Homo sapiens: one gene and its partners. The protein of the gene in region 1 purifies or fractionates together with the protein of each later gene. This does not show direct contact. Each region holds a gene or a part of one and is shown in the gene's direction. Other genes may lie near its edges.

The links.
Region 2: the proteins of AGO3 (region 1) and EIF4B purify together in Homo sapiens (affinity purification with mass spectrometry; one study listed by BioGRID and IntAct). This does not show direct contact.
Region 3: the proteins of AGO3 (region 1) and EIF3L purify together in Homo sapiens (affinity purification with mass spectrometry; one study listed by BioGRID and IntAct). This does not show direct contact.
Region 4: the proteins of AGO3 (region 1) and SPIN1 purify together in Homo sapiens (affinity purification with mass spectrometry; one study listed by BioGRID and IntAct). This does not show direct contact.
Region 5: the proteins of AGO3 (region 1) and STK38 purify together in Homo sapiens (affinity purification with mass spectrometry; one study listed by BioGRID and IntAct). This does not show direct contact.
Region 6: the proteins of AGO3 (region 1) and LONRF3 purify together in Homo sapiens (affinity purification with mass spectrometry; 3 studies listed by BioGRID and IntAct, with this or other methods). This does not show direct contact.
Region 7: the proteins of AGO3 (region 1) and LIMD1 purify together in Homo sapiens (co-immunoprecipitation; one large-scale study listed by IntAct). This does not show direct contact.

The regions. Positions count from the first base shown.
Region 1 is NC_000001.11:36,007,605-36,011,104, forward strand, and holds part of AGO3 (protein argonaute-3), read left to right. Parts: intron 1-1,085; coding exon 1,086-1,173; intron 1,174-1,292; coding exon 1,293-1,440; intron 1,441-1,774; exon of another isoform or gene 1,775-1,870; coding exon 1,871-1,990; exon of another isoform or gene 1,991-2,267; intron 2,268-3,500.
Region 2 is NC_000012.12:53,019,956-53,023,455, forward strand, and holds part of EIF4B (eukaryotic translation initiation factor 4B), read left to right. Parts: coding exon 1-71; intron 72-1,850; coding exon 1,851-1,905; intron 1,906-2,537; coding exon 2,538-2,672; intron 2,673-3,500. UniProt on the Homo sapiens protein: Required for the binding of mRNA to ribosomes. Functions in close association with EIF4-F and EIF4-A. Binds near the 5'-terminal cap of mRNA in presence of EIF-4F and ATP.
Region 3 is NC_000022.11:37,852,419-37,855,918, forward strand, and holds part of EIF3L (eukaryotic translation initiation factor 3 subunit L), read left to right. Parts: intron 1-3,146; coding exon 3,147-3,226; intron 3,227-3,500. UniProt on the Homo sapiens protein: Component of the eukaryotic translation initiation factor 3 (eIF-3) complex, which is required for several steps in the initiation of protein synthesis.
Region 4 is NC_000009.12:88,471,944-88,475,443, forward strand, and holds part of SPIN1 (spindlin-1), read left to right. Parts: intron 1-3,134; coding exon 3,135-3,334; 3' UTR 3,335-3,500. UniProt on the Homo sapiens protein: Chromatin reader that specifically recognizes and binds histone H3 both trimethylated at 'Lys-4' and 'Lys-9' (H3K4me3K9me3) and is involved in piRNA-mediated retrotransposon silencing during spermatogenesis.
Region 5 is NC_000006.12:36,540,980-36,544,479, reverse strand, and holds part of STK38 (serine/threonine-protein kinase 38), read left to right. Parts: exon of another isoform or gene 1-2,711; intron 2,712-3,500. UniProt on the Homo sapiens protein: Serine/threonine-protein kinase that acts as a negative regulator of MAP3K1/2 signaling. Converts MAP3K2 from its phosphorylated form to its non-phosphorylated form and inhibits autophosphorylation of MAP3K2.
Region 6 is NC_000023.11:119,012,618-119,015,736, forward strand, and holds part of LONRF3 (LON peptidase N-terminal domain and RING finger protein 3), read left to right. Parts: intron 1-262; coding exon of another isoform or gene 263-284; exon of another isoform or gene 285-421; coding exon 422-584; intron 585-1,589; coding exon 1,590-1,739; intron 1,740-3,119.
Region 7 is NC_000003.12:45,681,751-45,684,295, forward strand, and holds part of LIMD1 (LIM domain-containing protein 1), read left to right. Parts: 3' UTR 1-2,545. UniProt on the Homo sapiens protein: Adapter or scaffold protein which participates in the assembly of numerous protein complexes and is involved in several cellular processes such as cell fate determination, cytoskeletal organization, repression of gene transcription, cell-cell adhesion, cell differentiation, proliferation and migration.

The DNA.
Region 1 (3,500 bases):
AGAATCACATTAACCCTGGAGACAGAGGTTGCAGTGAGCCAAGATTGCATCATTGCACTCTGACCTGGGCAACAAGAGCAAAAAACTAAAAAAAAAAAACCTAAATAAAATTAAATTTTCAGTTTCTTAGGTACACCAGCTACATTTCTTATGCTTAGTAACATGTTATTAGTGATTACCATATTAGCATAAATGTAGAACATTCCATCACCTCAAGAAAATTCTCTTTGACAGCACTGCTTCAGAAAATTCATCTCGAAGAACTTCAGCCAACAGCTTAAAGCCCATTTCTTCACATTCTAGAGCAGGCCTGGGATCCTTGAACCCCTAGAGTCCACAGATGGACGGCAGGGATCCAAGAACTCCTAAAATCATGTGCTAAATTATGTATATGTGCATTTTGCTGAGAGTTTATTGCTTACATCAGATTCTCAAAGGGATCTTGACTCCATAAGAGGGTAGGGATCACCTACTTTAGGAATTATTTTGGTTACATTTGATTTTTAATAGTATTGGAAAAGAGCTGTGTCACTATATTATACCTCTATAAAAGTGTCACTTTGCTTCTGTTAAAAATGCCTGGAATTTTTTTCTCCTGCTTTATAAATCTTTAAAGGACTTCTTTCTTGAGCTTTACAAAATTCTGATCTTCAAGCAGTATGTGATGACTGGGCTAGGTAAATATCACATAATTTGAAATTATGGAATACCTTGAGAATTATTGGATCTCCTCTTTCATTCCTCCTTCCCTCTCCCAGCATAAATACCTGAATTTATTATAAACAGGATTTTTTATTAATGGAAGATTTTGGCCCTTGATCTATGGGCTTTGCAAATTTTATGATTTTATTTTTTAATGTGTAGAGCTTGATGGGGTAAGGAAAAATTTTGCCATTAGGTCTGTCATGACTGTGACCATTATTAGCAATGTTATATGTAAAATCTGGTGTTTATATCATCTTGCCTGTATCACAGAATTTTTTGTCTGTTCAGAATTGAGTTTTTATGGTAATGAACAGGCTTTATAAGTATAAATATTTTACATGTGACAGTTCTGTAACCTCCATTTTTCTTGTTGGGAACAGGTTTGAAGGTTGAAGTGACTCATTGTGGAACAATGAGACGGAAATACCGTGTTTGTAATGTAACAAGGAGGCCTGCCAGTCATCAAACGTAAGAAAAGTTTGTCAGAGCAGCGATGGTGTGAGGCAGCTTGCTCTAGTTAGTGGGGTTGGGAGTTTTTCTGGCTCATAATGGGCAAGAATTGTTCATGTGTACTTTTTTTTCCTCAGCTTTCCTTTACAGTTAGAAAACGGCCAAACTGTGGAGAGAACAGTAGCGCAGTATTTCAGAGAAAAGTATACTCTTCAGCTGAAGTACCCGCACCTTCCCTGTCTGCAAGTCGGGCAGGAACAGAAACACACCTACCTGCCACTAGAAGTAATGCCTTCACACTGCTAATTAATACCCTGTTGTTCATGATTCTTTTGGGGTCTTTTATGGCCGATAACTTACCTCATACAGAACATTTATTTTGGAATATGAACTGTTTTTAAGTTTTAATTTATTCTAAATTTTCTGTAATGAAATAACACGAAACAAGTTCATCCATAATCCTACCACTCTAATGTAACCACTGTTAACATTTTGGTATACTATACTTCTTTCAGTCTTCATCTGGTGTACATTTTACTTAATTATACTTAATTACTGTAGAGCTGTCTTGTTTACTACTTTTTTACTTAACATATTGAAAATAAGTGGTTTAATGAAGTTGATTTTAAATTTTTATTTACATGTAATTGGCACTAAGTAAGAGCTAAAAAAAAAAGATATATACATGTAGTACAAAACTTTTTTCCATTTGTAGGTCTGTAATATTGTGGCAGGGCAACGATGTATCAAGAAGCTAACAGACAATCAGACTTCCACTATGATCAAGGCAACAGCAAGATCTGCACCAGATAGACAAGAGGAAATTAGCAGATTGGTTAGTACTTAACCTTAGAAATGAGAATTTAAAACATATTAGGGTGAACTGTAATACTAGAGAACCATGTCCTTATCAACCCATACCTTATGACCATTTCATGGACTGTCAGAATTAAAAGCAATCATGGAAGTAATCTAATGTTCTTGATACAAGCCTTGGTGGGCTATATGAGAAGGGTTAGGTCCTTCTCATTTAACCCTGAGCTTTTTAAGTAGATCCAGGGAACAGATCCTCTCAGAAGAAATGTTTCCATTTAGTAAACTGGAACCTCCACCTAAAAGAGGTGGGAAATAGGAGGAAAAGTCAAAGAATTATGACTAGCAATACTAAAATTCTTTTTTTTTTTTTTTTTTTTTTTTGAGACGGAGTCTTGCTTTGTCACCCAGGCTGGAGTGCAGTGGCACGATCTTGGCTCACTGCAAGCTCTGCCTCCCAGGTTCACACCATTCTCCTGCTTCAGCCTCCCCAGCAGCTGGGACTACAGGCGCATGCCACCACGCCTGGCTAATTTTTTTGTATTTTTAGTAGAGACAGGATTTTACCATGTTAGCCAGGATGGTCTCCATCTCCTGACTTTGTGATCCGCCCGCCTCGGCCTCCCAAAGTGCTAGGATTACAGGCGTGAGCCACCGCACCCGGCCAATACTAAAATTCTTAACACTCAGTCTAAGATTGCTTAGTCCCCAGTATCACAGTGGCAGCTGTACAGTCTGAATAAAGAAATGGCTGGGCTCAGTGGCTCACATCTGTATTCCCAGCAGTTTGGGAGGCCAAGGCGGGTGGATCACTTGAGGCCAGGAATTTGGGACCAGCCTGGGAAACATGGCAAAATGCCATCTCTACTAAAAACGCAAAAATCAGTGGGGCATGGTGGCATGTGTCTGTAATCCCAGCTAGTCAGGTGGCTGAGGCATGAGAATAACTTGAACCTGGGAGGCAGAGGCTGCAGTGAGCCGATCACACCACTGCACTCCAGCCTGGACAACAGAGTGAGACTCTGTCTCAAAAAAAAAAAAAAAGAAAAAGAAGGTCGGGTGCGGTGGCTCATGCCTGTAATCCCAGCACTTTCGGAGGCCGAGGGGGGCGGATCACCTGAGGTTGGGAGTTCAAGACCAGCCTACCAACATAGAGAAACTCCGTGTCTACTAAAAATACAAAATTAGCCAGGCATAGTGGCGCATGCCTATAATCCCAGCTACTCAGGAGGCTGAGGCAGGAGAATCGCTTGAACCCGGGAGGCGCAGGTTGCGGTGAGTCGGGATTGTGCCATTGCACTCCAGCCTGGGCAACAAGAGCGAAACTCTGTCAAAAAAAAAAAAAAGAGAGAGAGAGAGGGAGGGAGGGAGGGAAAGAAAGAGAAAAAGAGAGAGAAAGAAAAGAAAGAAAGGAAATAGAAGATAGCTTTAACCACGTAAGGTCTCTGTGCTGTCTCATTGTTCTAAATGAGGGGAAGGAAGGCGTTACCAATACCGCTTTATAAAACTCATAGAGTAAGGCAAAACTCAAG
Region 2 (3,500 bases), on another chromosome or scaffold:
TGAAAGGTTTTGGTTATGCTGAATTTGAGGACCTGGATTCCCTGCTCAGTGCCCTGAGTCTCAATGAAGAGGTAAAGAAAATAAGAGTGGGGATATGAGGGGTGTAAGTTCACAAATCTCATGTTTATTGATCAAACTGGTATTTTTTAGGTTGAGAGGCTCACTTCAAAGATTCCCATATCTACAAATAAAGGCCTGCATTATTTAACAGTGTATCACTTAACATCGAACATCTAGCAAGTCACACTTCAGCAAATTCAGTAGGCCCCAATAATTTAGATAGGTACTTAGGTGGAAAGTTGTGGAAGAAACCCACCACACACCAGGTCTCTAATTAAGTCTTACACTGATTTACCCACAGTGTTGCCTCAACTCTTATGGCATTGCTTTTTCAAAGTAATCTGGCCTGATAAAGGCAAATAGAAAAATCAAGTTTGTTTAGTATTAAAGGCATATCTCATTTTCAGGGAAGTGTTGTAATGGTATATTTGTTCATTTAAGAGGATTTGGAAACATTTCCTACAAAGGAATATTTTACAGGAGAGTGACAATAAATATCTAGTCCTTCTGCTTGTCAACACTGCCCACAAAGGTTTTCCTGTCCCAGGACTTGAGGGGCTTATATCTCAGAAGAAAAAAGACTTTTTTCCTCCTTTAACTCCAAAAACACCTTATTGTTTATTGATAAGGCAATTTCTAGTGCCATTTGTGCCATATTTCTGTAGTCCTATTTTGCCATATGACATGATTGAAATCAACACCTCTTAGAAATAGTTTTGCTGCCTCATAATTGATTACCATCATGATAACCTGTAGTCAGTGTGAAATAGAGATAAAAATTAATGTACTTAGTTAAATGCATATGAAGGTCTAATCTTGTTCCAGAGTTACTCTTACTGGATTATTTTTAGATTTTTATTAACATTACTGGTCTCTAACTTTACTCAGTCTGGATAAGAAAAAGAATACCATGCAATTGTTAACTATTTGATGTTTACTAGATTAACTATTAATATATTGTTGTGGTCCATAGTTAAGAGTTACTTTGTTACTAGAGATTTCATTATAGTGGTGTTTAATATAGTTTTGGGTATTTTTAACTAAAAATCATTGTTATCCTTCAACTGTAGATTCTACTATGAAATGAGGAAAAATCAGCAATAGAATTAATTGGGTTCAAAGTATATAAATAATGATGTGGGAAAGGGAAGTCAGAGGGTATCTCTGGAAGAACTGATTTATCTGAAGGTAATACTGAGTGAAAGAACCTAAGATTGTAGACAAAGCATGCTTTATGCAATTTTGCTGGTACATAGTAGTAGTAGAGGCTCTATAAATGTGTTGGGTGTTTTTGTTTTTAAGAGACAGTGTCTCGCTATATTGCCCAGGCTGGATTTGAACTCCTGGGCTTAAGTGATCCTCCAGCCTCAGCCTCCCAAATAGCTGAGACTGTAGGTACATGCCACTGCACCTGGCTTCTATAAATTTTGATAAATAATTGTTGTGGCACCAAATATGCCTTTTATTCAGCTAGTTATGTGAGAATTATTTTTAATTTACTACACTTGACAAATTACCTTGGATAGTTAAAAAGTTAATTCTATTCTGTGAAATTAAGCTTTGTAAAAATAGTATAATTGACCTAATATTCAAGGCCAGCTTAAATTTGTTTAACTTTTAAGTCTTTTAAAGGACTCTTTAGCCCACAAATTGGAGTGTTAGCTAGATTACAGTGTTTTCCTTTATCTTCCTTCCCCTAGTGCTTCTGCTATGCCCAGACGTTCAAGGTCACTCAAGGGATTTGTGCATAATGGGGCAAAAGGTTGGTTAATATGGTCCTATGCTCTCAGTCTCTAGGTAACAGGAGAATTCGAGTGGACGTTGCTGATCAAGCACAGGATAAAGGTAAGGAAACTGGTAGAGATTTCTGTTTGGTAATGGTCCCAGGATGACACCAAGCCATCCTTTCCCAGAAAATTTGAATAGGGGTAGTGGTGGGCCTGCCTGAATCTACAGTAACAGTTTTCAATCAGTTTTGCCCCACAGGGGACTTCTGGCAATGTTTGAAGACATTGTAGTTGTCACAATTGGAGGGAGTGCTGCTGACATAAGTAGAATCCAGGGGTTAATTCTATAGGGAATAGGACAGTCCCCATCAACAAAGAATTATGCAGCCCAAAATGCATGTCAAGATTGAGAAGACTGATTGATCTAGATGAACATTAAATAGATGATAAATAGATTAGCTGCCTAACAGCACGTTGGTCACAAAGGGGACCTAATTTGTATATGTTTCAGGGACTCCTGGCCCATACAGAATTTGAGATAGCTAAGCATTAAACCAATAGGAAAAAACGGGAGGAAAAGAGCCACCTGGGGTTGAATTGGAGCATGTACTTATGGGGCCTGAGGTAACTGGGATGACAGTGTGACGTGAAAGTGAAAAATAGGGTAAAATGGGGGTTTTCTATGTGTGAGAAATATTGGGCAAAGTTTTTATGAGATAACTTACGGTTTTTGTTTTAATGTATCTGTAGACAGGGATGATCGTTCTTTTGGCCGTGATAGAAATCGGGATTCTGACAAAACAGATACAGACTGGAGGGCTCGTCCTGCTACAGACAGCTTTGATGACTACCCACCTAGAAGAGGTGATGATAGCTTTGGAGACAGTAAGTTTGTTTTTATGAAGTTAGCTTCCTCTGTGCTTTGGGAGGCTATTTAGTAATAGGACAAATGTGTTACAGATGATCAGATCACATTAACAGATAGAAGGAGGAAAGCAGATTAAGAAAAATTTTGGATAGTATCTGAAAGAACTGATAGATGCAGGAAACGAATTTGATAAATTAATAATTTTTTTTGAAAACTTAACCAAACAAAGGGACAGACATTTCTCTTTTTTTGGAGACAATTGTTTATAAAGAAACCCAAACTGGGCATGGTGGCTATAATCCCAACGCTTTGGGAGGTCAAGGCAGGTGGATTGCTTAAGGCCAGGAGTTTGAGAGCAGCCTGGGCGACAAAACAAGACCCTGTCTACCAAAAAGAAAAAGAAAAAGCTGACGTGGTGGTACGCACCTGCAGTCCTAGCTGTTCAGCAAGCTGAGGCAAGAGGACTCCTTGAGCCCAGGAGGTCTAGACTGGGTGACAGAGCGAGACCCTGTCTCAAAAAAAAAAATCCAACAGATTCTACAAAGTGAGCTATTTGAAATAAGAGTTCAGCATGATTGCTGAGTGAAGAGCAGCATACAAAGATCAGTTGCATTACTTTTTGATATATATATATATTTTTGAGACGGAGTCTCGCTGTGTCGCCCAGGCTGGAGTGCAGTGGCGTGACCTTGGCTCACTGCAACCTCCACCTCCTGGATTCAAGTGATTCTCCTGCCTCAGCCTCCCAAGTAGCTGGGACTACAGGCGCGCGCCACCACACCCAGCTAATTTTTGTATTTTTAGTAGAGATGGGGTTTCACCATGTTGGCCAGGATAGTCTTGAT
Region 3 (3,500 bases), on another chromosome or scaffold:
TCAGAGCAAGCTGAACTCCGCAGGTTTTGAGGGGCTGCCGTTGTGTAATGAGCGTTAGAGATAAGATAGGTCAGTCAAAGCTGGGATAGTCAGGAGTGACTTCACCAAGGAAATAGAATTTAAGCAAGTCAGAAGGATGAGGGAGAGAAAACAAATAGCCAAAGGCCTATTGATCAATGAATAGGATCTCTGACATGTGTTTTCTTTTTTTGTTGTTTTGAAAGAGCTGATTGTAGTTGAAAAGCAGAGGAAACCTCAGACATTGCATGGTTTTAGGCCTCACCCCTGCCACTCTCGTGAGCCTAAGTTCTACTTGGTGTGGACTCCAAGGTCCTTCCCGCCCCTGCAAGCCACCCATTAGGTTGAGCTGAGAGATCAGCCAATGGGAACAGAGTCACTTATGACCAAGAAGAATTGATCTGGGGGTTAGTTAGTGAGGAGAGAGAAAGGGAGAAAACCTTGTTCGGAGGTTGAACACCTCCAGCCGAAGAAGGTGCAGCATCGAGGTCTTTCACCACTAGCAAATGGATCCAAGTCATGCGGCACCAAAAGAGGTTAGCAGCTGAAGGGTGTTGAAGTGACACAACACCAAAACATGCTACCAATGATGAATCCGTATCTGTACAGGTCTCCAGCAGCCTCAGTTCTTGCCTCCTCAAAAGAAAGAATTCGACTGAGGGGTAAAATGCTACCGATGATGAGTCCGTATCTGTACAGGTCTACAGCAGCCTCAGTTCTTGCCTCCTCACAAGAAAGAATTACACTGAGGGCTAAAATGCTACTGATGATGAGTCTGTATCTGTACGGGTCGACAGCATCCTCAGTTCTTGACTCCTAACAAGAAAGAATTCGACTGAGGGGCACAAGGCAGAAGAAGAGAGGGAGGCAAGTTTGAGAGCAGGAGTGAAAGTTTATTAAAAAGCTTTAGAACAGGAATGAAAGAAAGGAAAGGACAGTTGGAAGAGGGCCAGGTGGGTGACCTGAAAGGCAAGTGTGCTGAACTGTGTTTTCTTTATTCCCCGGGTCTTTTCTGATTAGAAGTATATAAATCAGCGCCTACAAAAATTAGCTGGGGCATGGTGGCAGCATGCCTATAGTCCCAGCTAGTTGGGAGGCTGAGGTGGGAGGATCACTTGAGCCTGGGAGGTTGAGGCTGCAGTGAGCTGCACAATGGAGCGAGACCCTCTCTCAAAATTAAAAAATGGACCTGATGTTCAATAGAAATGTAGCTAGACATTAATTTTAATTTTTCAGCCAAGCGAAGTGGAGATTTATTTAAAATATTATTTCTATATGTAATCAGTATTTAAAAATTAAGGGGATATTTGCCCTTTTTTTTCTTTATACTTAAAGTTTCCTAAATCCAGTGTGTATCAGAAATACTTGCTTTGTGTTTAGATTTTATAGAGTTTATGACTGGAAAAGTAATTCAAATTTGAAATTTGAATCTTCAAATAGTAGAGTAATTCCAAATAGACCTAAAAGTTTTCCAATACTGAGTTAAGTGTTGGTTTTTAAACTTAAATGGCAACTAACTGAAATTTAAAATTTAACTCTTTGCTTATATAGTAGCCACATGTAGCTAGTGGCTATTGCATTGGGCAGTGCCCGCAGATACAGATGACAGTTGAAGCCAAGCATCTTGTAAGTCTTTCTCTAGGAGAATGTGAGAAGAAATGCTGGTGCCTTAAGAAGTATGTTTCTTTAGGGATGGGTGGGCAGGCAAAGAAAGGATCTAGTAAAGGAGGCAGAAAGAAAAGTGAAAAGTAGATAGTAAATTGGCAAAGAAATGTCACAGGAACCAAAAAGTCTGCAGAAGAAACTGAGGAAGAGAGTATCACCAAATGTTTTAGTGAGGTCCAGATGAGAAAAAAAGCCAGTTGAATTTGGTAACTTGGAGGGCCTTGATAACCTTAGCAAGGTCAATGTCAGTAGAGTGATGGAAGCAACAGCCAGAGAGCAGTGGGGTGAGAAAGGGGAATTGGTAAGTATCGGGGACATAAAGGGTCACTGAGTGGCTTTGTGTTTTGTTTCTGTGTTTTTTCTGTTTTTGTTTTTTGTTTTTTGAGACAGGATTTCGCTCTTGTTGCCCAGGCTAGAGTGCAATGGCGCAATCTCAGCTCATCGCAACCTCCGCCTCCTGGCTCCAAGCGATTCTCCTGCCTCAGCTTCCCAAGTAGTTGGGATTATAGGTGTGCACCACCATGCCTGGCTAATTTTGTATTTTTAGTGGAGACGGGGTTTCACCGTGTTGGTCAGGCTGGTCTGGAACTCCTAACCTCAAGTGATCCACCCGCCTCAGCCTCCCAAAGTGTTGAGATTACGGGTGTGAGCCAGCGCGCCTGGCCTGTTTCAGTGTTTCTTTTCTGTTCTGTTTCTGTGTTTCTCCCCAACCCCCATCCCGTAGAGACAGGGCCTTCCTATATTGTCCAGGCTTGTCTTGAATTCCTGGGTTCAAGCGATACCCCTATCTTGTCCTCCCAAAGTGTTGAGATTACAGGCGTGAGCCATCATGCCTGGCCTGTTCAGTGTTTTTTAGGGGAACTTGAGCATGTTTATATGTTGGACTAAAAGAGCCAGAGAAGCAGGAGGGGTGGGGCTTGAGGAGATTGGAGGAAAGTATTAATAGCTGCTGAGGGCATCAGGAGAAGAAAATTAAACAACCTGTTGCAGGTTTGTCAAGTAGCAGTGTTTGGATTGGATAGGCAGCAGTGTTTAAATTGGATGCTGTAGGTCTGTTGTGGCCTTGGACTGCAGCAGACTGATTTGCTTCTGTGTTTAGAGACGTTTGGATGTGCTCCAGGAGATGGAAACGCTGTGTTAAAGAATGGTGGCCAAAAAAGTAGTTCTTATAGCAGAAAACAGCAAGCAGTTAAATATGGCTATAGTTAATGATACAGAGGCAGGAGATTATCCTGAAAAGCTTGATGGGTCCCTAACTGATACAAAAACAATATTTTCTTGTGTTGAGAAAGATTGAAGTGTGGAGTTGGGTTGAGGACAGTTGTGGGCTTGAAGGGCTTTGGCCTCAGCTCTGTTTATTTGACATCTTCCCCTTTCTAAGCCTGGGTCCTCATCTGTAAAATGTTAGGATTGGCATTCTCCAGTCCTTTTGGAATTTTAGAGATTTTTTTCTTGATTTTTAGCTGGACCAAGCTGACTGAAAGATTCTTCAAGAATACACCTTGGCCCGAGGCTGAAGCCATTGCTCCACAGGTTGGCAATGGTAGGTGTGAGCTCTTTATATCTTGTGCACTGAGTGGAATCCAGTGGCTGAGTCATTAGACAGGAAGCTCAAGAGGGTCTGTGTCTGTTTTGCTCACCATTTTGTTTCCTTGGTGCTTGGTATGTAGTAGGTCCTTGGCAAAATAACTTGTCGAAGGCTGGATGATTTAAGAGAGGACAGAGATCTCTCATATATGGTGAAATTTAGATCTTTGTACTGACTTGTTTCTATTTCCTTCTATAATTTGGGGGTCATTACAGTCACTCTGGAATAA
Region 4 (3,500 bases), on another chromosome or scaffold:
ATACGCCACCACATTGGGCTAACTTTCGTATTTTTAGTAGAGATGGGGTTTTGCCATATTGGCCAGGCTGGTCTCAAACTCCTGGGGTGAAGTGATCTGCCCACCTCAGTCTTCCAAAGTGCTGGGATTACAGGTGTAAGCCACTGCACCCCGGCCCCTCCTTTCTTTTTCAGGAGTGTTTTGACTATTCTGGGTCCCTTGCAATTTCATATAAATTTTAGAATCAACTTGTCAGAACAAAGAAGTCACCTGGGATTCTGACAGGGACTATGTTGAATTTGTAGATCAGTTTTGAAGAGTATTGCCCTCTTAACAATGTTAACAAGACTTTATAAGTCTTCTAATCCATGGCTTGATCTCAGCTCACTGCAGCCTCTGCCTCTCAGGTTCCAGCGATTCTCCTGCCTCAGCCTCCCGGGTAGCTGGGGTTACAGGCACATGCCACCTCGCCTAGCTCATTTTTGTATTTTAGTAGAGATGGCGTTTCACCATGTTGACCAGGCTGGTCTCGATCTCCTGACCTCAGGTGAGCCGCCGCGCCTGGCCACTTTTTATTTATTTATTTTTTGAGATGGAGTCTTGCTCTGTTGCCAGGCTGGTGAGCAGTGGCACGATCTTGGCTCACTACAACCTCCAACTCCCAGGTTCAGGCAATTCGTCTACCTCAGCCTCCCGAGTAGCTGGGATTACAGGCACACGCCACCACGCCCATCTAATTTTTGTATTTTTAGTAGAGACAGAGTTTCACTGTGTTGGCCAGGATGGTCTCGATCTCCTGACCTTGTGTCTCTCACCTTGGCCTCGCAAAGTGCTGGGATTAAAGGCGTGAGCCACTGCGTCCGGCTCCACATTTCTTTTATTAAATTTACTTCTAAGGATTTTATTCTTTTTGATGCCATTGTGCATATGAATTGAATTGTTTTCTTAATTTCACTTTTGGATAAGCTTGTTCCTTTAAAAACTACTCAGTGGCCTTTCTTCAAACACATGAATCTCTGGCCTTGGACAGATGTAACTGGTAGGCCCTCTCCATACATTAGCCATGCGTCAGTCATCTTTATTTCTTTTTTTAAAAAAATTCTTCCTATGAATAAGTTAGTTAACATACTAATTTCCTCATCTGGCCTTGAATTTCTACTTCTTCAATACATATTTTTAAAATTTTTGGGCTGGGCATGGTGGCTCACGCCTGTAATCCCAGCACTTTGGGAGGCCGAGGCGGGCGGATCACCTGAGGTCAGGAGTTCGAGGTCAGCCTGGTCAATATGGTGAAACCCCGTCTCTACTAAAAATAAAAAAATTAGCCAAGTGTGGTGGAGGGCGCCTGTAGTCCCAGCTACTCGGGAGGCTGAAGCAGAAGAATCACTTGAACCCGGGAGGCAGAAGTTGCAGCGAGTCGAGATTGCACCACTGCACTCCAGCCTGGGCGAGAAGAGCAAGACTCCGTCTCAAAAAGAAAAAAAAAATTGTGTACATTTGTTATAAAGGGGTAATGCAACTTACATACTCAGGAATTTGTCATGAGAACATTTCTTTAAAAAGCATTTCTCCAACCTGTATGAGGTGACTTGAACATTTTTTTATAGATAAATAGAGCAAGTCCTGTTAACCTAATCATAGGAAATGCAAGGGCGTCTGCAATTCTGCATCGCTTTTCCTAGCCATTTTTTGATCTTCCCTCTCCTTTAATTCTCCAAACTTGTGTGTGTGTGTGTGTGCACGCGCTATGGAAGCTTATTACCTTTAGAAACAGTGGTGATGCTCTGATCTAATGATTTCTGAAAGGGTCCTGGTCGCGTACCCGCTCTGATGGTAAAACAGGCCTCTACATGACTCCCTTGGTTAGCTGAGTTACTATAAAATTCACGTGCGATTGTGTATTTGTAATTCTTTTGTAAACGTGCCACAAAAATATGGCAGTATGATGATACTGCTTAAGGGAAGAGAATTTTTAAAGAAAAGAGTTCAGCTTATATTTCTTTATTTCTTTTAAAAGAATTGATTATGCTCAGATGTTTTATTTTTATTTCTTGTGACTCTTAGTACCAGAGATCACAGTAGCAGTTTTTGGATTGTCATTCAGTGAGAGAATTTATTGTAACCGAAGAGGCAGACTACTATTAATACATGTACATTATATGGTCTACACCAGGATACCTGTGAGAGTAAAATGACATTACTACCAATTGTGCCAGGATAACATGGACTGTCTTATGTAGCTGGATCCTCTGGTTGCCCTACCTGAAGGCCACCTGCTACTACGAGGAAAAGAGCTTCGAGTTTTTCAGAACCCATGCAGAGTTTCTTAAAATAGAATTATAATTGCCTAGCAAACCCCCTCTCTTTTTTTTCTTTTACTTTGTTTTTTTGTTGTTGGTGGTGATGGTTTGCTGTTTCTGTGTGTTTTCTTAGAGGCTAGAGGCAGTACATTAATCTTGGGGACCTTTTAAACAGTACAGATGCCTGTGCCATCCTCAGAGATTCCCTTGTAGTTGTCCTGGGCTGAAGTTCATTCAGCACCAATTTTTAAAGCATGGAAAGCTTAAATTTTGGAACTGAGTTAGGAAGATGATGTGAAATGCAGTGAAGTTGAGGGGGAAGAAGCTTTAAGGATTCACAGAGTAAAACCAATGGTACTTAGGCATTTTAAATGTGTGCCATATTCTCAGTAATCCCTGTAGGAATTGTCTGCTTTCAAATTATATTTCAAAGCCACTCAAACTTATTTTCATTTAAGTGCAGCTACAGATTAAACATGGGCCAAAGAAATTTTTGGTTATGATTTTCAAAATTGTTCATATATCTAGATGGAGGTCGGCAAACTATGAAAAAAAGTTTTATTATTGGAACACAGCCACATCTGTTTATATACATATCATCAGTGGCTGCTTTTGTGCTACAGTGGCAGAGTTCAGCAGTTGGGACAGAGACCATATGACCCTAAGCCTGAAATATTTACTGTCTTGTCTTTTACGAAAACGTTTGCTGACTCCTGGTCTAGATAATCATGAATTCAGGCTATTAAAATTTTTTTTAAGTTATGAAAATAAATATGTGAGTTGATTTATATCTAAAAATTGACTTAGAAATTTTCTCTCTCTCTCTTTTTTTTTTTTTTTTTTTTTTTAATATAGATGATTCACCTCCAGCAGAAAGGGAACCAGGAGAAGTTGTGGACAGCCTGGTAGGCAAACAAGTGGAATATGCCAAAGAAGATGGCTCGAAAAGGACTGGCATGGTCATTCATCAAGTAGAAGCCAAGCCCTCCGTCTATTTCATCAAGTTTGATGATGATTTCCATATTTATGTCTACGATTTGGTGAAAACATCCTAGATGTCATCACAAACTCTGCCAAATTTGTGGAACTATGAAATGTATTATTTGTAGACATAAAGACTTGATTGCTTTCCAGTTTAATGAAAGCTTAAATGTCCCTGCGAACCCACAATCTCTGCCAGCAGAACTGGTTTTGTTCTGAATAGTACAGATTGATGTGAAC
Region 5 (3,500 bases), on another chromosome or scaffold:
CATCTGGTTTTTAAATTTCTTCACCAAACACACTTAGAGTGCATGTGGTTTTCATTGTGGGTGGAGGGGGGGGTACAGGCTGACAAATAAGGAACCACACCCAAGCTTCACAAACCAAACAGAGGTTTTTTTTTTGTTGTTTTTGTTTTTTTTAATTCCTTTAGTGATACTCTAAAACATTTGAGTTTGCTTTGGTATTAGTCGAAACTTCCCCATAAAAAATAATGTGATATTTTATAGTAAGGTAGCTCTTAATGCAGTGTCTTAAATTTGTTTTTACTGATCTTTTTGGCACATGATGAATCAAAATGTTTGACTCTCAAGTAGAGTCTTAGTTTTGAATCTCTGCTCTGAAGGAATTATTTATGTGATTTTTGTCTGCGTATCTTTTTAAATAATTGCTTTTTAAATAATTTTAAGGCTTTTTTGAACAAGTGTTTTATAAGCCTTAGTTTAATCCACAAAACAATTTAAAAAGCTACTAAATATTAAGGGGGAAAACCTGAAAACTTTTCTTAAAATGCACTATCTTTGAAAATGGTCCTTGGCTGGGTGCGGTGGCTTATGCCTCTAATCCCAGCACTTTGGGAGGCCCAGGCAGTCAGATCATCTGAGGTCAGGAGTTCAAGACTAGCCTGGCCAACATAGTGAAACCCCGTCTCTACTAAAAACTAGCTGGGGGTGATGGCATGTCCCTGTAGTCCCAACTACTTGGGAGGCTGAGGCAGGAGAATCGCTTGAACCCAGGAGGCGGAGGTTGCAGTGCACCGAGATTGTGCCATTGCACTCCAGCCTGGGCGACAGAGTGAGACTCCATTTCCAAAAAAAGAAAAATGGCCCTTTGACTCTCATGATTCTTTTTTGCTGCAGCTGTGGGGGGTAGTAGAGACAGGGTCTTGCTATGTTACCCAGGCTGGTCTTGAATTCCTGGACTCATGAACTCCTGGGCTCAAATGATCTCTCTACCTCACCCTCCCAAAGTGATGGGATTACAGGCATGAACCACAGTGTTCAGCCTCTCCTAATTTTTACTCAGCTTTATATTGGGATGAAGAGACAGAGAAGTAGATCATATGAGAGGTAGGAATGGTAAGAATAAAATATTGAGCACTATTGGCCGGGCATGGTGGCTCACGCCTGTAATCCCAGCACTTTGGGAGGCTGAGATGGGCAGATCATGAGGTCAGGAGATCGAGACCATCCTGGCTAACACGGTGAAACCCTGTCTCTACTAAAAAATAGAAAAAATTAGCCGGGCGTGGTGGCGGGTGCCTGTAGTCCCAGCTACTCGGGAGGCTGAGGCAGGAGAATGGCACGAACCTGGGAGGCGGAGCTTGGAGTGAGCCGAGATCGCGCCACTGCACTCCAGCCTGGGCGACAGAGCGAGACTTCGTCTCAAAAAAAAAAAAATTGAGCGCTATTGCCAATGCTGGAGCAAGTCAATGTTAGTGAACAATTTGGCCAAGTGTGATAATACAGGTTAGCTGAAATATCTGGAGGAAAACAAGATTTTATTTTATTTATTTATTTTTTTTGAGACGGAATCTTGCTCTGTCACCCAGGTGGAGTGCAGTGGCATGATCTCGGCTCACTGCAACCTCTGCCTCCCGGGTTCAAGCGATTCTCCTGTCTCAGCCTCCCGAGTAGCTGGGATTATAGGCGCCTGCCACCACGCACAGCTAATTTTTGTGTTTTTAGTAGAGACGGGGTTTCACTCTGTTGGTCAGGCTAGTCTCCCAACTCCTGACCTCAGATGATTCGCCTGCCTTGGCCTCCCAAAGTGCTGGGATTACAGGCGTGAGCCACCGCGCTCAGCCGATTTTATTATTTATTTTTGAGACTGAGTCTCGCTGTGTAGCCCAGTCTGGAGTGCAGTGGCGCTATCTCGGCTCACTGCAACCTCTGCTTCCCAATTCAAGCAATTCTGCCTCAGCCTTTGGAGTAGCTAGGACTACTGGTGTGTGCCACACTCCTGGTTGAAAACAATATTTTAAATTTAGGAAAAAAATATTCTATAACTTATCTAAACACATTGGTGGTGTTTTTTTCTTGTGTAAAATGAGGAAATTAAGATCTCTTGTTTTTAAGGTATTGCTGCTTCTACCACTAGAATCGTGATTCAGGTTTTTTGTCATATTGTTCCCTTTATTTTAAGACTTAAAACTTTATTTTAACTTGTAAATTCAAATAAACGGCAAACATTTATCAAATACCTTAAGGCTGTGTCAGAGCATATATGTATCAGATTACCATTTTTAATCATAGATTTTTCTTTTAACTGTGGATAAACTTAAAAAGTTATTGGTAACAGTATATGCTTATGGAAGAAAATATAGAAAAACATGGGCTGGGTGCAGTGGCTCATGCCTGCAATCCCAGCACTTTGGGAGGCCAAGTTGGGTGGATCACTTGAGGTCAAGAGTTTGAGACCAGCCTGACCAGTGTGGTGAAACCCCGTCTCTACTGAAAATACAAAAAAAAAAATTAGCTGGGCACAGTGGCTGGTGCCTGTCATCTTAACTACTTGGGAGGCTGAGACACGAGAATCGCTTGAACCTGGGAGGCAGAGGTTCCAGTGAGCTGAGATTGAATCATTGTACTCCAGCATGGGCGACAGAGTGAGACTCCATCTCAAAAAAAAAAAAAAAGAAAAAGAAAAACATGGAAAAAGCACAAGCAAGAATAACATTTTCTATTCCCACTACCTACAGGTAAGCCACTAATAACATTTTGATGATATGTTTCTAATAATTATGTGCATATACAGTAAACACATAAAGAAAATTGAGATCGTGATATACATTCTGCTTTGTAATGTGTTCTGTTGACTTAGAGTGGAAACATTTCCTCTGACATTAACTATTTGGACATATTTTAATTGTCTGCACATTATTTTATTGAAGGGCTTTTTCATACTGAATTAATTCTATTGTGTATATTCAAGTTATCCCTAATTTCCCTTTGTGATTACAATGCTGCATTGCACCTCCTTGTGATGAATTTTTATGGGTCTTTGATTTCTTCAAGGTAGATTTTTAGATGGCAAAGAATTGTACTGTATGCATACTGTATATTTTTTTTTAGGTCTCACTATGTTGTCCAGGCTAGTCTTAAACTTGGGGACTCAAGCAGACCTCTGTCTTGGCCTCCCAGGAAGCCAGGATTACAGGCGTGTGGTTTACTATATATTCTTAATTTATCTATATGGTATTGTGATCTTGTTCTCTTTTTAAAAATGCAATATGCACTTGCACTAATATGTTTTAAAGATATATTTGTGGGCTGGGCACGGTGGCTCACGCCTGTTATCCTCAGCACTTTGGGAGGCTGAGATGGGCGGATCATGAGGTCAGGAGTTTTGAGACCATCCTGGTTAACATGGTGAAATCCCGTCTCTACTAAAAATACAAAAAATTAGCCCGGTGTATTGGTGGGCGCCTGTAGTCCCAGCTGCTTGGGAGGCTGAGGCAGGAGAATGGCGTGAACCTGGGAGGTGTAGG
Region 6 (3,119 bases), on another chromosome or scaffold:
AGGGGGTCAAACTTGCCCTTTTATATTAATAACAACCCTACTCTACTTTCACCATATCAGCATTAATGCATTCATGAGGGTGGAGGCCTAATCACCTCTTAAATGTCCCACCTCTTAATAATGTTACAATAGCAATTAAATTTCAAAATGGGTTGTAGAGGAGGCAAACATTCAAACCATAGCACTGGCACAGCACATAGTATGTGCTCAATAAATGGTAGCAGTTACACGAATACATTACGAATTTTTTTTCTTCACACAGGCACTGCCTGTTGTGTAATTGAAGCTGTAACCCAGGGACAGGAAAATAGGCAGAAGTCCCTTGAGCCACAGCATGGGGCTACAGAAATGGCTGGGTGCCAGCCCAGGGAAACAGAACTCATCAAGGATCTAGTCTCTCGACTCCATTCTCAATAAACAGGTTTGCAGAATATGGCTGCATCCTAGAGATCAGAAATGTTCAATTCTTTGCTGATGGCCGCTCAGTGGTTGACAGCATAGGCAAGAGGCGCTTCAGGGTGCTCCATCAGAGCCAGCGGGATGGCTACAACACAGCCGACATTGAATACATTGAAGACCAAAAGGTAAGGGTGGCCAGTGCCAAGAATCCCAAAGCCAGGCTATCCTTGTAACTTGATACACAAAGATAGTTGTGAAAGGATTTCTCAGAACCCTTGAGGGCCTTGGGATTTCACACCAAATTGCTGCAGCAACATTGAATGCTGCTGGATTGCTGTCCAGTTGCACTATGGCAGTGAGGGCGCCTACTGTCCTGGCTCTGCTTAGCTGCTGAGTTGCATTCATGCATAGGAAATGTTATCCTAGATCAACCCTGGGGCTCATTCAGCTTGGGAGTTAAGTCTCTGCCAAAGATTGCAAGGAATGGATCTGGGGTGGGTCTATACATATATATTTTATCTATCGATTTATGTATATTTTAAACTTTTTTCTTTTGAGACAATTATAGATCCACACATGCATTTGTATTTTAAAGTACGTAACCTGGCTAAGAGCCCTTCCCAATAATCCATCATCCCCTAAGGCAGAAAGATGACACATCTAGTTAATCCTTGGTTTTCTGAGGTAATGGGTGGAAGAAGAGGTAAATAATCCTATATTCATTTATATTTACATTTGTTACATAGTAGATTAATAAATATCTGATGACTGAGTAAATGTGTTTGACCAAGATAGTTACATGCTGAGACTGACATACTCCTGTGTCTTTTCCAGCAAGTAATGAGAAAACAGATGTAAAAATGAAAAGGGCAAAGGCATGGACCAGCATAACCTGGTTTAACCACATGCCTCCACTCAGGCCGGTTTGAATCTCTGGTTTTCTGCATGTTTTGCTGTTTCAGCTAATCTACCCAGCTGAACCTTTCTCCTTCCTCCATGGTCAGCAGTATCTACACACTGTCCAGCACTTGACTAAGGGGCATTTCACATCAAGCAAAGGAGAAAGCTGAATGGGTGAGCCTTCCCATAGGAAGGCAGGATGGATGCTCAAAGCGAATCAGGTGTCAAAAGTGACTCTGGGAATGATGGAGAGGGTACAGAATGTTTCACTTCCACTTTGATACTTTCAGGTTCAGGGAGAGGATTGTGCTGAGCTCATGGGATTACATAACTGTGTCTATCAGCAAGCATCATTGTGGTTTCATTCGCTCAAATTATCCCTAAAGAATCGGATACTCAATCACTTTGGTCCCATGCCGGAGAAAGACGCCGATCCTCAGGTATAGAAAAATGTCTATTTTTAAACGGGTTGTCCCACTAGAAGAGAGTGCCTAGTGTTTGTGATTAGATGGGTATGTGGCTGCCATTCAGCACATCGAATGCAGAGAGGAAGATGGATTTAATTTGGTGTTGTTTGGCTGCACAGTGAGCGTCATGAGTAAGACCAAAAAGATCCCAAGTTAGAATCGGGGTAACTAAAGTAAAGCAGTAGGAACTTGGATCCAAGGCAGGTTTTGAGAACTAAGTAAGATAAGAGAATGGGAACATAGATATCACCAACAGAAGAACCTTCCATGGGAGTCCAGATTCACACCATGGTAGTGTTAGGGTGACAAGTTACATGCAAAGGCCAGGACTTAAGAGAAGGGTATCCTGGGAGCTGAGACCAAAAGCTGCTGCTTTCAGGTAACTTCATAACCCTCTCCCTCATTGCTTTGGGAACTAGGGGATAGGGCCAGCTACCCTTATAAGATTACAACTGCAAGACCACAAAAACTTTTCGTGCCTCGGTCTATCTATGCTTCGCCCTGCAAGTCTAGACCCTTGCTATTGTCCTCACCAGGGCTGAACAGCTCTGTTCATCATTAAATACTGTTAGTTGAGTTATACTAGACAGTAGTTTGTTAGGTTCTACTGATCAGTGTTCTTCCTGGGGGATAGGCCTATTTGAAAGATCAAGCTGCAGATCAGAAGCTCCCTAGGAGAGTGGAGATGGTTAAGTTTCACTAAGCTTTGCTTGCCTGGAATAAATCAGGGAATACTGTCTTTCTAGGATAAGGCTGGAGATATCCTAACCACATATTTCCTCACGACCATCTCTTCCTATGCTCCAAGCTGGCTCTCCTACATTGATTCTTTACTTATGCTCATCCCCAACTCTGTCACAAAAGAAAAAATCTCAATATGCATATTCTGACCAAAAGTCTGGTCCTGCTTACCTCACTAGCAGTATGACCTTGGGAAGATTCCTTTCCCTTTCTCAACTTTTGTCCCATCTCTGACATGAGGAGGGTTCTAAAGCCCCCTCTTCCTCTTGCATTCTGAGGTTCTAAGACACCAGTCTGTTCCCTAAATGAAATGTCTTGCTTTCCTCAGACCACAAAGGTGGCTTCTTTCCCCCCCCATGCAAAGGCATCATGAGTTTTCAAGGGAGAAAGGCCAGTTAGTGCTTCCTGTGACCCAGCTCCTGGCTCTGGGCCACGATGAGTCAGGACTGCAGCATATACCTCTGAGCAAACTCACGATCAAGCTTAATGTTCCCCTTCACCTTCCGGGAAGCGTTCTCCCTTAGGCAAAAGATACAGATCAGCAATGGTAACGGGAAAACACAGATGCTACAGTGTGATTCATAAAGGCTAATGACAGAGAAAGTTGAAATC
Region 7 (2,545 bases), on another chromosome or scaffold:
TGGTGTCTATTCTTACCAGATGTATAAAAATGTGAGAGGCCTTGGAGAATCATATCCCAAGAATCAGCAGTTTCTTTTACTGGACCTTTAAGATTGAGACTTGTAAGGTCCTGATGCAGTGACTTGTAAGGTCACTTTGTCTCTCTTGTGAATGTTACTGTTTTTTCTCTTCTGAGGTTATGACCAAAGAATCCTCAAGGCGAGTGATCCTTCAGGTTTGAGACAGCCACATGCAGGAAGACAGGACTTGTAGAGTGTTGGGGCCAAGTGTGTGGTTAGAATCCTTGGGGTGGGGAAAGAGTTTGTTCTAGACTCCAGTGTAGTCCTTGTGGCTACCAGGTCTGACGTGCCAAGGACACGGGAAAGCTGGGAGTGAGGATACTCATAGTCATAGCACCTTACACCAGAATAAAAGTTTTTTTTTTCTTTTTAAGTGATGAGAGAATGGCTAGTCTGATTTTGCCAACATGGGCTGCTATTTGCTTAAGACCTTGATGGTATAAGGAGTGAAGATGCAATCAGGGTAAAAGGCGGTCTGGAGTTGTGGTGTGCTGGCAAACCAGCCCTCTGGGGCAAAAAATTAAAAAGCCTTGATATGGAGTGTTTGCTGATACCTATGATGTAAATATTCCCGCCATGGCCACTTTCCAGCTACCAGCAAGGCATCCTGGCACCAGGGATTGGGAGGAGATGGCATAGTCCTAAGAGTCAGCCTTGGGCATTGGGCCATGTGGGACTGGGCAGTGGGGTATCTGGTCTGGTTCTAAGTGCTGTGATGAAGCAGTAGCAGCTGTAATAGCTGGCATTTCCCGTGTGCTCATCACATAGCAGATGTTATTCCAAGGACTGTATGTTCTTTATCATCCCTCATTTGATAGACAAGACAACTGAGACACAAAAGGGTGAAATAAACAGTAAGTACTCCATCCCAGGCCATCTCATCCAGAGGGTGCTGTCTTGACCACTCTACTACTCTGGTTGATGGGAGGCAGTAAATTGTCCATCAGTATACTTCTTCATCAAAGCTACATAGTCAAAAAGCCACAGGAGGCTGTGAGGAGAAGCTCACTGCTGCTCTGTTGAAGTCTGTATTGGTTTCCTATGGCCACTCTTAACAAATTACCACAACCTCAGTGGCTTAAAACAACACAAATATATCATTCTGTCATCCTGGACACGAGCCAAAGGTTGTCGGCAGAAGCGAATTGCTTCCAGAGGTGCTATAGGGTGCTGCCCATTCCTTGCCCCTTTTCCGCTTCTAGAGGCTGCCCATTTTCCTTGGCTTGTGGCTGCATCATTCTGGCTGCTTCTATTGTCACACCTCCTCTCTGACCCTCCCTGCCTCCTTGTAAGGACACTTGGGATTACGCCCATCCAGATAATCTAGAATAATCTCCCATTTTGTGATTCTTAATAACATCTGCAAAGCCTCTTTTACCTTGCAGAATAAGATATTCACAGGTTCTGGTGAGGAGGACAGGGACATCTCTGAAGGGGAGGGAAGCAGGAGATAGGGTCTGGAGGCATGGAATTGGCTTCCTAAGGCCAATTCAGGCTGACTTCCTAGAACTAAGTCAAAAGGAAAACCCCAACTTTCCACGCTCAAGTAACAAAAGGACCAGAGGCTACTCCCTTTGCAACCTCCCCACCCCCAGCCCCTTTTCTGCATGGCAGGTGAAAAATTGAAAGTATCGCTAATTGATCCCCTCCCACAACCAATCAGACTGGTCTTAGGCCAAGTCTTCATTTGCCTAGGAGTATAACTTTGTAACTTCAGCCTCTGATTGGGCGTTTTACACAACCAGTCAGATGTTTGTATAGGGTGGTGTAACTTTGTAACTTTGCTTCAGCCTCTGATTGGTCCCCTCCCACAACCAATCAAACTGATCATGGACCTCTGCTTCATTTACATAGGGTGTACACCAAGTAACCAATGGGAAACCTCTAGAGGGTATTTAAATCCCAGAAAATTCTGTAACCGGGTTCTTGAGCTGCTTGGGCTGCTCCCACCCTGTGGAGCGTACTTTCGTTTTTCAATAAATCTCTTTTGTTGCTTCATTCTTTACTTGCTTTGTGCGTTTTGTCCATTTCTTTATCAAGACGCCAAGAACCTGGACACCCTCCACCGGTAACAGGAGGAGCATTAGTCAGCCTACCACAGACTCCAACGAACGTTTTTTGAGAGGAAATGAAAGAATATTCCTAAGTTATTGGGTGCCTTTTCTTCAGGAATCCCTGAAAGTGGGGGTTTGCAATTTTCCCTGGATTGAAAACAGAAATGCTTCCTACACAAACATGATTGAGACCTTGTACTCTAGGTGTAAAAAAACAGAGTAGGTCATACTCTGTGGGTTATGGTCAGAGAGATCTGGTTAGAAGTTCCCAGGTAGGCGACAGCCCTAGATGTGTGACACTTCTAGGAGAATCTCTGGCTATGTGGATACGTCCAGGTGTGTAAGGCAGCCTCAGGGACTGCCACCACTTGGTCACATACATGTCCCTCCAACTAATCCTAGCTCTCAAGGACAGGTGGTTCTGGGCCCTG